Regions from separate parts of the Homo sapiens genome. Here region 1 is linked to region 2. The links come from fine-mapping of genetic effects on gene expression. A gene starts in region 2. The other region holds a variant in brackets. All regions are shown on one strand. Distances are from middle to middle. Region 1 overlaps SNRPF-DT (SNRPF divergent transcript). Region 2 holds the start of SNRPF (small nuclear ribonucleoprotein polypeptide F).

The links. PIP is the estimated chance that this variant, and not a neighbour inherited with it, causes the effect. A credible set is the group of variants that fine-mapping cannot tell apart.
Region 1: its variant is the best candidate, but not a certain one, in a credible set for the expression of SNRPF in putamen (GTEx, PIP 0.63).

The regions. Positions count from the first base shown.
Region 1 is chr12:95,830,126-95,834,522 of GRCh38, forward strand. SNRPF-DT (SNRPF divergent transcript) reads right to left here. Exons shown (of 3, transcript NR_135014.1): 2 at 2,892-2,959. Among named protein-coding and RNA genes, the nearest start is that of SNRPF-DT, 27 kb to the right of the region's middle. The variant A/T (reference allele first, on the strand shown) is at 2,029.
Region 2 is chr12:95,856,302-95,860,698 of GRCh38, forward strand. It overlaps SNRPF (small nuclear ribonucleoprotein polypeptide F), which reads left to right and starts at 2,651. Exons shown (of 4, transcript NM_003095.5): 1 at 2,651-2,775. The coding sequence starts at 2,773. SNRPF-DT (SNRPF divergent transcript) reads right to left here and starts at 2,538. Exons shown (of 3, transcript NR_135014.1): 1 at 2,453-2,538. RefSeq lists enhancers at 2,360-2,975, 2,374-2,433, 2,484-2,543, 2,664-2,893, 2,924-2,973.

The sequences.
Region 1 (4,397 bases), 26 kb before region 2:
GCTGAAGACAATGTTTGAGGGCAGGAAGCATCCAGCATGGGAGAAAGATGCAGGCTGGAGGACTAAGCTAGATCTAGTCTTTCCATGTTTCTCTGGCTGCACTGGCTGCTGATAGATGGAGCCCACCCAGATTGAGGGTGGGTCTGCCTTTCCCAGTCCAATAACTCAAAAGTTAATCTCCTTTGGCAACACCCTCACAGACACACCCAGGAACAATAGTTTGCATCCTTCAATCCAATCAAGTTGACACTCGATATTAACCATCACAGATGTATTTACTTTTTCTGGTTCTAGTCACAAAGAAAGATGCAAGTGCACACTCAACAATGCTCCACAAATAAGATCTATCTAGTGCTACCTCATCCTAGGCTTCTTCAGATCCACCATCTCCCTACTTTACAATAATCCTACTTGTGTCCACAGTTAGAGCCAGCAATAATTAGTCACTTCACTGAAGTAGTTTAACTTTCTGTTTTTGTCAGTAGCTTTTCATCCTCAGTTTAGTCAATGGTAATTAAAATACTTCCACTGGAACCACACATATGATTAATAACTCTTACTGAAGCTGAATTAGAGCACATCATCCAACCACCACCCTTCAAAAGTTTGGATATTAATACAAAAGAAAATGAAGCTCTAAAATTGGAATGCAATGATTAAAATCAACGGTTCCTTCTCACTTATAGCCACATCATAAAAATAAGTATTTTGCACAACTTTTACTAAAATTACCTTTTCTTAGTTCTGCAATGACAAATTGAAAAAAAAAGGAGGTTGTCAATCTGTCAAAACAAGAGTTTTTAGTCATCTGTGTAGAAAAATCCTTGTCACAACACTGTAAGAATTTTAATACACAAAAGAGATAGGGAGAAGAATATATAGTAAAATATTTTAATGACATCAGGTATAGAAAAATTTAAAGAAAACAAAAAGTAGAAACTATAAAAGAAAATTAAGGCATCAAAAACATTAAAATTAAAACTTTCTGTATGGCAGAGACCCTACTGCCTTAGTCTGGGACAGTGTTTCTCAGAAGCACACAGGTAGCACCTGAGGAGCTTTGAAAAGTACTGATCCTAGGTTACACCTCCCCAAATTCTGGTTTTAATTGGTTGAAGGTACAGCCAAGGTACCTAGAGTTTTAAAAGCTCCCCAAGTGAGTCCAATGTACAGCCAATGTTGAGAACCATTAGTCTAGGAAAAGAAAGTTATAATAATCTACAAGGTATTTTTATCCAGAATTATAAAGTCTTATAGGTCAATGAGAAAAATTCAAAGAACCCAATATAAAAATGAGCAATATTTGAATAGGCAATCAACTGAAGAGAAAACTCAGACCGATAAACAAACACAACAATACTCAATTTTCTAGTAGTCAGGAAAATAAAAAAATCCAAATTACAACAAGATACCAATTCACACTAAGCAGATTGGCAAAATTAAAACATTTGTAAGTACCAAGGACTGGTAAGGGTATCAAACAACAAGAACTCTCAAAGGTGCTGGTGGGAGTATAAACTGGTACAACCCTATGACAGTTAATTTTTTTTTTGAGATGGAGTCTCGCTCTGTCACCCAGGCTGGAGTGCAGTGGCATGATATCGGTTCACTGCAACCCCCGCCTCCCAGGTTCAAGTGATTCTCCTGCCTCAACCTCCCGAGAAGCTGGGATTATAGGTGCCCACCACTACACCTGGCTAATTTTTGGAATTTTGGTAGAGATGAGTTTTTGCCATGTCAGCAAGGCTGGTCTCAAACTCCTGACCTCAAGAGATCCACTCGCCTCAGCCTCCCAAAATGCTGGGATTACAGGCATGAGCCATTGTGCCAGCCATTATAGGTAATTTTATGTGTCGGCTTCGTTAGGCTGAGGTGCCCAGTTGTTTGGTCAAATATGAGTCTAAATGTTATTGCAAATGTATTTTTTTAGATGTGATTAACATTTAAATCAATAGATATTGAGTAAAGTCAATTACCCTCCATAATGTGGGTGGGCCTCTTCCAATCAGTTGAAGGGCTTAGGAGAAA[A/T]GACTCAATAAAGAATAATTTTGCCTCAAGACTCCAACATCAAAGCTCTGCCTGAGTTTCCCATTTGCTGGACCGCCCTGCAGGTTTCAAACTCAAGACTACAACAACAACTCTTACCTGAATCTCCAGCCTGCTGGCCCACCCCACCATGCCCACAATCATGTTAGCCAATTCTATAAAATAAATCTATATCTGATTTACATCTATATACATATCCATACCCATATCTCTATATCTCTATCCTCTTGATTCTGTTTCTCTGGAGAACCCCAATTAATATAAACTAACTTTAAAGAACAATTCAGCAATATCTAGAAAAGTTGAAGATGGGTATAGTCAATTTCAACTCCAGGTATATAGCCTGTAGTCCTCAAAGAGACAGGTGAGAAATGGGATGTAGATGTGGGACTTCTATATCTTTTTTAAAAGTTGAGGGTAAGGGGGCAAAGCAAATACGGCAAAATGTTACAGCGTTTTAAATCAGGGATGGAGTATGTTTTACATTGTCATACTATTTTTGGCATTTTTGTGCAGTTTGAAATACTCCATAATTTAAATGAAAGCAATCAAGCAACTTGTGTTAAACATGGTGGTGATGGAAGTGGCCCCAACCAGTAAGCCAAACCCTAAATAAGGTCGAAGTGACGGAGAGCAGACCCAGCAGAGGGCAGGGATGGGATAGGAATGGATTTCAGGGGAAAGCGAGTAGCACTCAAGAGAGCCCCAAGACTTCTCAAAGTCTCTTCATAAACAAAAATTTCCTTTGACTTCTAAGATAGTTAGCTCATCATTAACTGCCCAGGGAAAGAATAGAAATCTGGCAGATGACATGATACCCTGAGGACATCACCGATAACACTAACCTTCATGACTCGGTTAAGGCAATGGCTTCCAGGTTTCTCCACTGTCAAGTTACTGTCTTCCTCTTTTCCTGGGGAAAAAGATCATATTTAAAAATAATTTATTGAAAATAATTAAATAAATGAACTTGCTATCCAATCAGAAGAACACTTGGATGAGTATTGCCTTACAGTGGGTTTTATCAGAAGTTGAAAGAAGATGGCACCCAGCAAGAAAAACTATACAAGGAATGGAGTGGGATGAAGGTAGAAAAAAAATAAGCAAACGATGTTGCCCATTTTCCTTCTGTTCATTGCTTTTCTACTCCCCCTTCCTTTCTTGGTCTTGAAAGTCTTTTTTTCTTCCTTTTGTTAACTGGCTCCTGCTAGGTCCAAGTATAAAGGAACCATGTCTCTATTTGTTAATCATTGTATTCCCAGAGCTTATAGTAGCCAGTGATAAATGGGTACTTACTGAAGAATGGAAAAGAAAGAGGAGAGAAGCGATAGAAATAGAAAGAAGAAACAGTAAGATAAAAGATGGGAGAAAGGAAGGAGCTTACTGATCATACCAGGTTATTAATATATTCCTTAACATTTATTTTATTTATGTTCCATGAACTCAATAATATTAAGCTATATTGATTTAGGATAGTTTCTCTAAGTTTTTTTTTCTAAAATTAGATTGTTTTCTTACTTGATGTTACCCTATATTTATATTTTTTTCTATTGAGCATTGCCCTGAATAAATAGAAGGTTTACTGTCAATTTCAACCTAAAGCAATTAATTTTGAATGGTAAATTTTCTAGCTTTCTAGGAAATGAATGGAAGATACCATTTCTGGTAAGCAAAACTTTTGGCTACCCTCAAAATGTGTATTATTTTATATTAGATCACGATATTCTTCTTTGTCCCTATGTTGGCCCCTTCTCTGGTGATGAACCAGTAGGAAAATTATCAAAATAAAAACCATAAAAACCATGTTAATATATTTACTGAATCATAAGACCTCCAGATTGAAAGAAACCTTCAGAATCTTTTTACCCATCAGACACTTGCATCACCTCTACATCCCAATAAGTGTTTTCTCCTTAAAATGGTCAAGGGAATATATATATATATTCCTCTATATATATACTGTTCATATTTATCAAGGATATATTCCTCTCTAAGTAGGACCTGGCCTGACCAAAATACTTCAAAGGTAATCTGACTGGTACACAATCTAGTAGGATTACCAATCCCTTTTTTTACTTATTCATTAAAAATAGAATTATTGCATATGATGTACATGGCATTTGTTTAGGCACTGGATATCCAGCAGTGAATTAAAAAGCCAATTCTTTCATACATATCAAGGAAGAGAAATGGAGGAATATATATATATATATATATATATATATACACACACACACACACACACACACACACACACACACATATACATATATACATACATATGTATGTGTGTGTATATATATATAGAGAGAGAGAGAGGAAGCCTATTCAATTCTTATGCACCTCTAAAT
Region 2 (4,397 bases):
TCCCTACTAAAAATTAAAAAAAAATTAGCAAAAGATTAGCTGGACGTGATGCTGCATGCCTGTAAGCCCAGCTACTCAGGAGGCTGAGACATGAGAATTGCTTGAATCTGGGAAGCGGAGGGTGCAGTGAGCTGAGATCGCACCACTTAACTCCAGCCTGGGTGACGGAGTGACACTCTGTCTCCAAAACAACAACAAAAAAGAAAAAACAAACAACAGCAACAAAAAACTGTAGATATCTTGTAAAAAAAAAAGTGCATATGTTACAGTAAAAGTTAATTGTTGTTCTCTTTGATTGGTGGGATTACTAGTGATTTTAGGTTTATTGTTTAGAACTTTCTACATTTTCCAAAATTTTGTATAATATTTATAATTAGACAAATATCAGTGACTTATGCCCACTTAATTTTAATAAGGTATTTAAGATTAAAATTTAATATGGACCAGGAATGGTGGTTCACGCCTGTAATCCCAGCACTTTGGGAGGCCAAGGTGGGTACACAGCTGGAGCCCAAGAGTTTGAGACCAGCCTGGACAACACAGCGAGACCCTATCTCTACAAAAAAAATTAAAAAATTAGCTGGGTGTGGTGGCACATGCCTGTGGTCCCAGCTACTCGGGAGGCTGAAGTGGGAGGATCTCTTGAGCCCAAGAGGTCAAGGCTGCAGTAAGCCAAGATCTCACCTCTACAATCCAGCCTGGGTGACAGAATGAGACCCTGTCTCAAATTAAAAAAAAAATTTAACATGAAAAGAAAAACCAACCTTAAATACACTATCTTTACAGAATGTGTTTACTGTAGTATTTCGTTTCACTTCACTGAGAAAACAGCTAAAGAGTCAGGCTTCTAAAACACATATTGAGTCTTTGAAAGGTAGCTTCATGAAGTAGAAAAAGCAGAGTTTTGAAACCCAGGTATGTGGTCCTGAGCAAGCTATGAGGCAGAAGAATAGCGGCTGGAAGCAGGGAACCTAGGGCCCATCCATGCTGACTGGGTATCAGAGGCTACTCCCATTTCAACCCCTCCTTTTTCTGCGTGGCAGTTGAAAAATGAAAGTACCTCTTATTGGTCCCCTCCCGCAACCAATCAGACTGGTTGTGGGCCAATGGGCAACCTCTAGAGGGTATTTAAAGCCCAGAAAATTCTATAACCAATGCTCTTGAGCCGCTTGCACCAGGCGGTGCCCACCCTGTAGAGTGTACTTTCATTTAAAATAAATCTCTGCTTTCGCTGCCCTGCTTTGTTTGTGCGTTTTGTCCAATTCTTTGTTGAAAACGCCAAGAACTCGGACAGCTACCCTCAACTGGTAACAGTTACCTGCTGGGCCTACTTCCTCATCTCTTAAACGGGGCTGTCACCCCGAATCAGACAGTAAGGTAAGATTTCCACGATTGTTGAAAAAGCCTGACACATAGTAGGAACTCAAAGTCTATACAAAGACTTAAAGTTCATAAAACAATAGACAAACGGAGAAATCCACTGAAGTTTAGGGTGAATAAATCTAATAACTGTTTGGTAAAAACTACACTGACAATCATTGTCTGGTCAGTGTTCAACATTTACGTGAAACACTGAGCTTTTACAAGGCCAAGCCCCGTTTTACGTTAAATTCTCGCAACCACCCTGAGGATGGTTCCGTTTTTAAAGCCGCGTTCCTGCCGAGGAAACAATGGCCCTCGGGGTTAAGACACTGCCCAACACCGGCCGCGCCTGATAGACGCAGGTTCCGAATGCAGGCCCCCTCCAAAGTCTTGCCCACTGCTCCACAATGCCTCAACACCCAACATTTCATCCTCAACTCCAAATCCATCTCTTCAGGGCCGCAAAAAAGCGTTACTTCCCAAAGGGCGTGTTCTCCAAGAACTGCATTTAGCATTTCAGATCAGAGTGACCCGAACTCAATAGGATTACGACAAAAACTAGTGAGATTCAGATAACACCGTTACATCGAAAGTTTTAATCCGTGACAGAGGAAATATTGCTTACGCCCTTAGGTAATTTCAAATGCACGTATGAAGGCCGTGCGGGTTTCTGCAGGCGAAGCAAAAGAAAGGTGGGGCCGGCAGGGTCGTGGGGCGGGGGTGGGGCATGACACCGTATCCCAGACGCAACTCGACCTCGTTTGCAAGAAATTCTGTATCCAACTCTCTTCAGTGCGTTTCGCCGCCCCTAGTCTAGTCTGGCTAGCCCCCAATTCCTTTAAAAGGGGTTAAAACGGGTGTTGCAGAAGAGAGAACACTCAGGTAGAAAGGGCCTGCGGCAGAGGCGCCCCCAAATCATGGAACCTGTTGGAAGAGTGAGGAAGGAACTCTGGGACCCCGAACATTCTCACGGGTGTAAAAAGACAAAGTAAATCCCCATTAGCCAAGTTGGGGAGAAGTCACATCCGTTACACAGCCTCTCCCAGACCGCCCTCTAGGAAGGACACCACATTTAAAAACACCGGCCTGCCTCCAGTCCTTGGCTGCCTCACAGCGATGCTCAGAGCCGGTTTCCCAAGGTCCGCGCGCCGCCTGCAAGGCGCAAACCCAAGCCGCTGCTGGTTGCTAGGAGATACTGGGCCAGCCATCTCCTCCAATCAGCACGCACCTCTTTGCGTCCAATCACAGAGGCAGGAAGGGCCGTGGTGGGAGGTGAAAGGTCATAGTCCTGTTTGGCGGCCATTTCTCTTGAAACTGCGGCTCGGGACCTGCGGTACCTGCTGTAGTCACGAGGGACGGGCGGCGGCCTGGTCGGCAGAGAGTAGCCTGCAACATTCGGCCGTGGTTACGATGGTAAGGAGAAAGAGAACGGCGGGAGAAGCGGGGAGAAAGAGAAGGAGGGAGACCAGCCTCGCGGGGCCTGCTGGTTCCTTCGCGCGTTTCCCATTCATCCGCGTGAGGCGCCGCGCACCCTGTCGCCAGCTCCTTTCACTCTGCTTTTAGGTTTCTGAGGCGCGTGCTCCTCCCGATGCCTTTCTTTTCCTAGGAGTGCCCGTGCCTTCTTCTCTTTGTTTGAATCCGGGCCTGGGGTATTCTTAGTTGGGGCTATAGGGTCGGGGTAAAAGTCAAAGAGAATTTGCACTTCCCACTTAACCACACTCCAGAATTCACTTTCATTCCGTGAAAGTAATGATACGGCCATGCTCTAGATTAACTCACTTGGGTGGGGAAGACAGACATTAGTCAAAAAATAACAAGTATGTAATTGCAAATAATAAGTGCTAAGAACAATGCAGACAGGAGGCTGTGAGGGTGCGCGTTAGACATTAGAGGCTTAGTCAGAGATGGCCTCCCTAGGAGGTGGAATTTAACTCGAAGCCTAAGTGTCATGAAATACGACCCTTTAAAGAGCAGGAGGAGGAGTGTACCGAGCACAGGGAATAGGAGCATAAGACCTGCGGCCGGAAAGAAAGCTTGGTCATTTGGAGAAATTGACAGAAAGGTATAGCCACTTGCGCGAATAGTGGTTAAGAGATGGTATCGGAGGAGCAGGCGTTGGGCAGGACCTCTTAGGCTGTATTGGGAGGTTTTGATTGTACTCCAAATCAATTTAAAATGATTCGGTTGGAAGCCATTGGATCATTTTAAGCAGAAATATGACAATCTGATGTGCACTTTAAAAAATCATAGTTACTGTGGTGGATAACAAATTGGAGAATGAAAACTGGAGACCCATTAGGTTATTGGAGTAATCGCCATATCAAGATCACTCCGAATATGCTCATGTTAGAGGGGGTTAGTAGCCAAGTTTCTTAGTTCTCTTCTTTGTTTGACTGGTGAGTGAGCAGAAGAGGGCAAAAACCGAAATCACTGGAGATGTTAATGGTTTGCTGAATAAATAGACATTAAGTAATTGCTGTAAGTAAGAGGCGGTGCTACTGACAAAGTCAGATAGGACCTAGCCCTAGCTTCCCCAGTTAAATACTGTCAAGCGTGATCTGCCCTCTGCTTCCTTCTGTAGTTTTATATTTGGGGCTTTGACTGACAATGCTGAATTGTATGTCCCCAAAACCACCTTGTTGCATCACTCTTCCCTCCTTTTACATAAGTAGCTAGCCTTGCCTGGAACAGCATTTTTTCCCGCTCTGGAAATAAACTCTTATCCTTTAAAACTGAGGTATTACTTATTTCAGGCAACCTTTCCTTTTTCCCCTGGATTGCTTTGGTACCCTTGTGCCTAGTATATCTCCTTTTACTACAGTGCAGCATGCAATATAATTATTTGTATGTGAGGAGTTCCCCTCCCCATCTCCAACTTCTTGACAGGGACTCATTTATTTATTTATTTATAAGAGACAAGGTCTTGCTCTGTTGCCCAGGCTGGAGTGCAGTGGCCTAATCATAGCTCACTGCAGCCTCGAGCTCCTGGGTTCAAGCAGTCCTCCCACCTCATCCTCCCTAGTAGCTGGGACTAC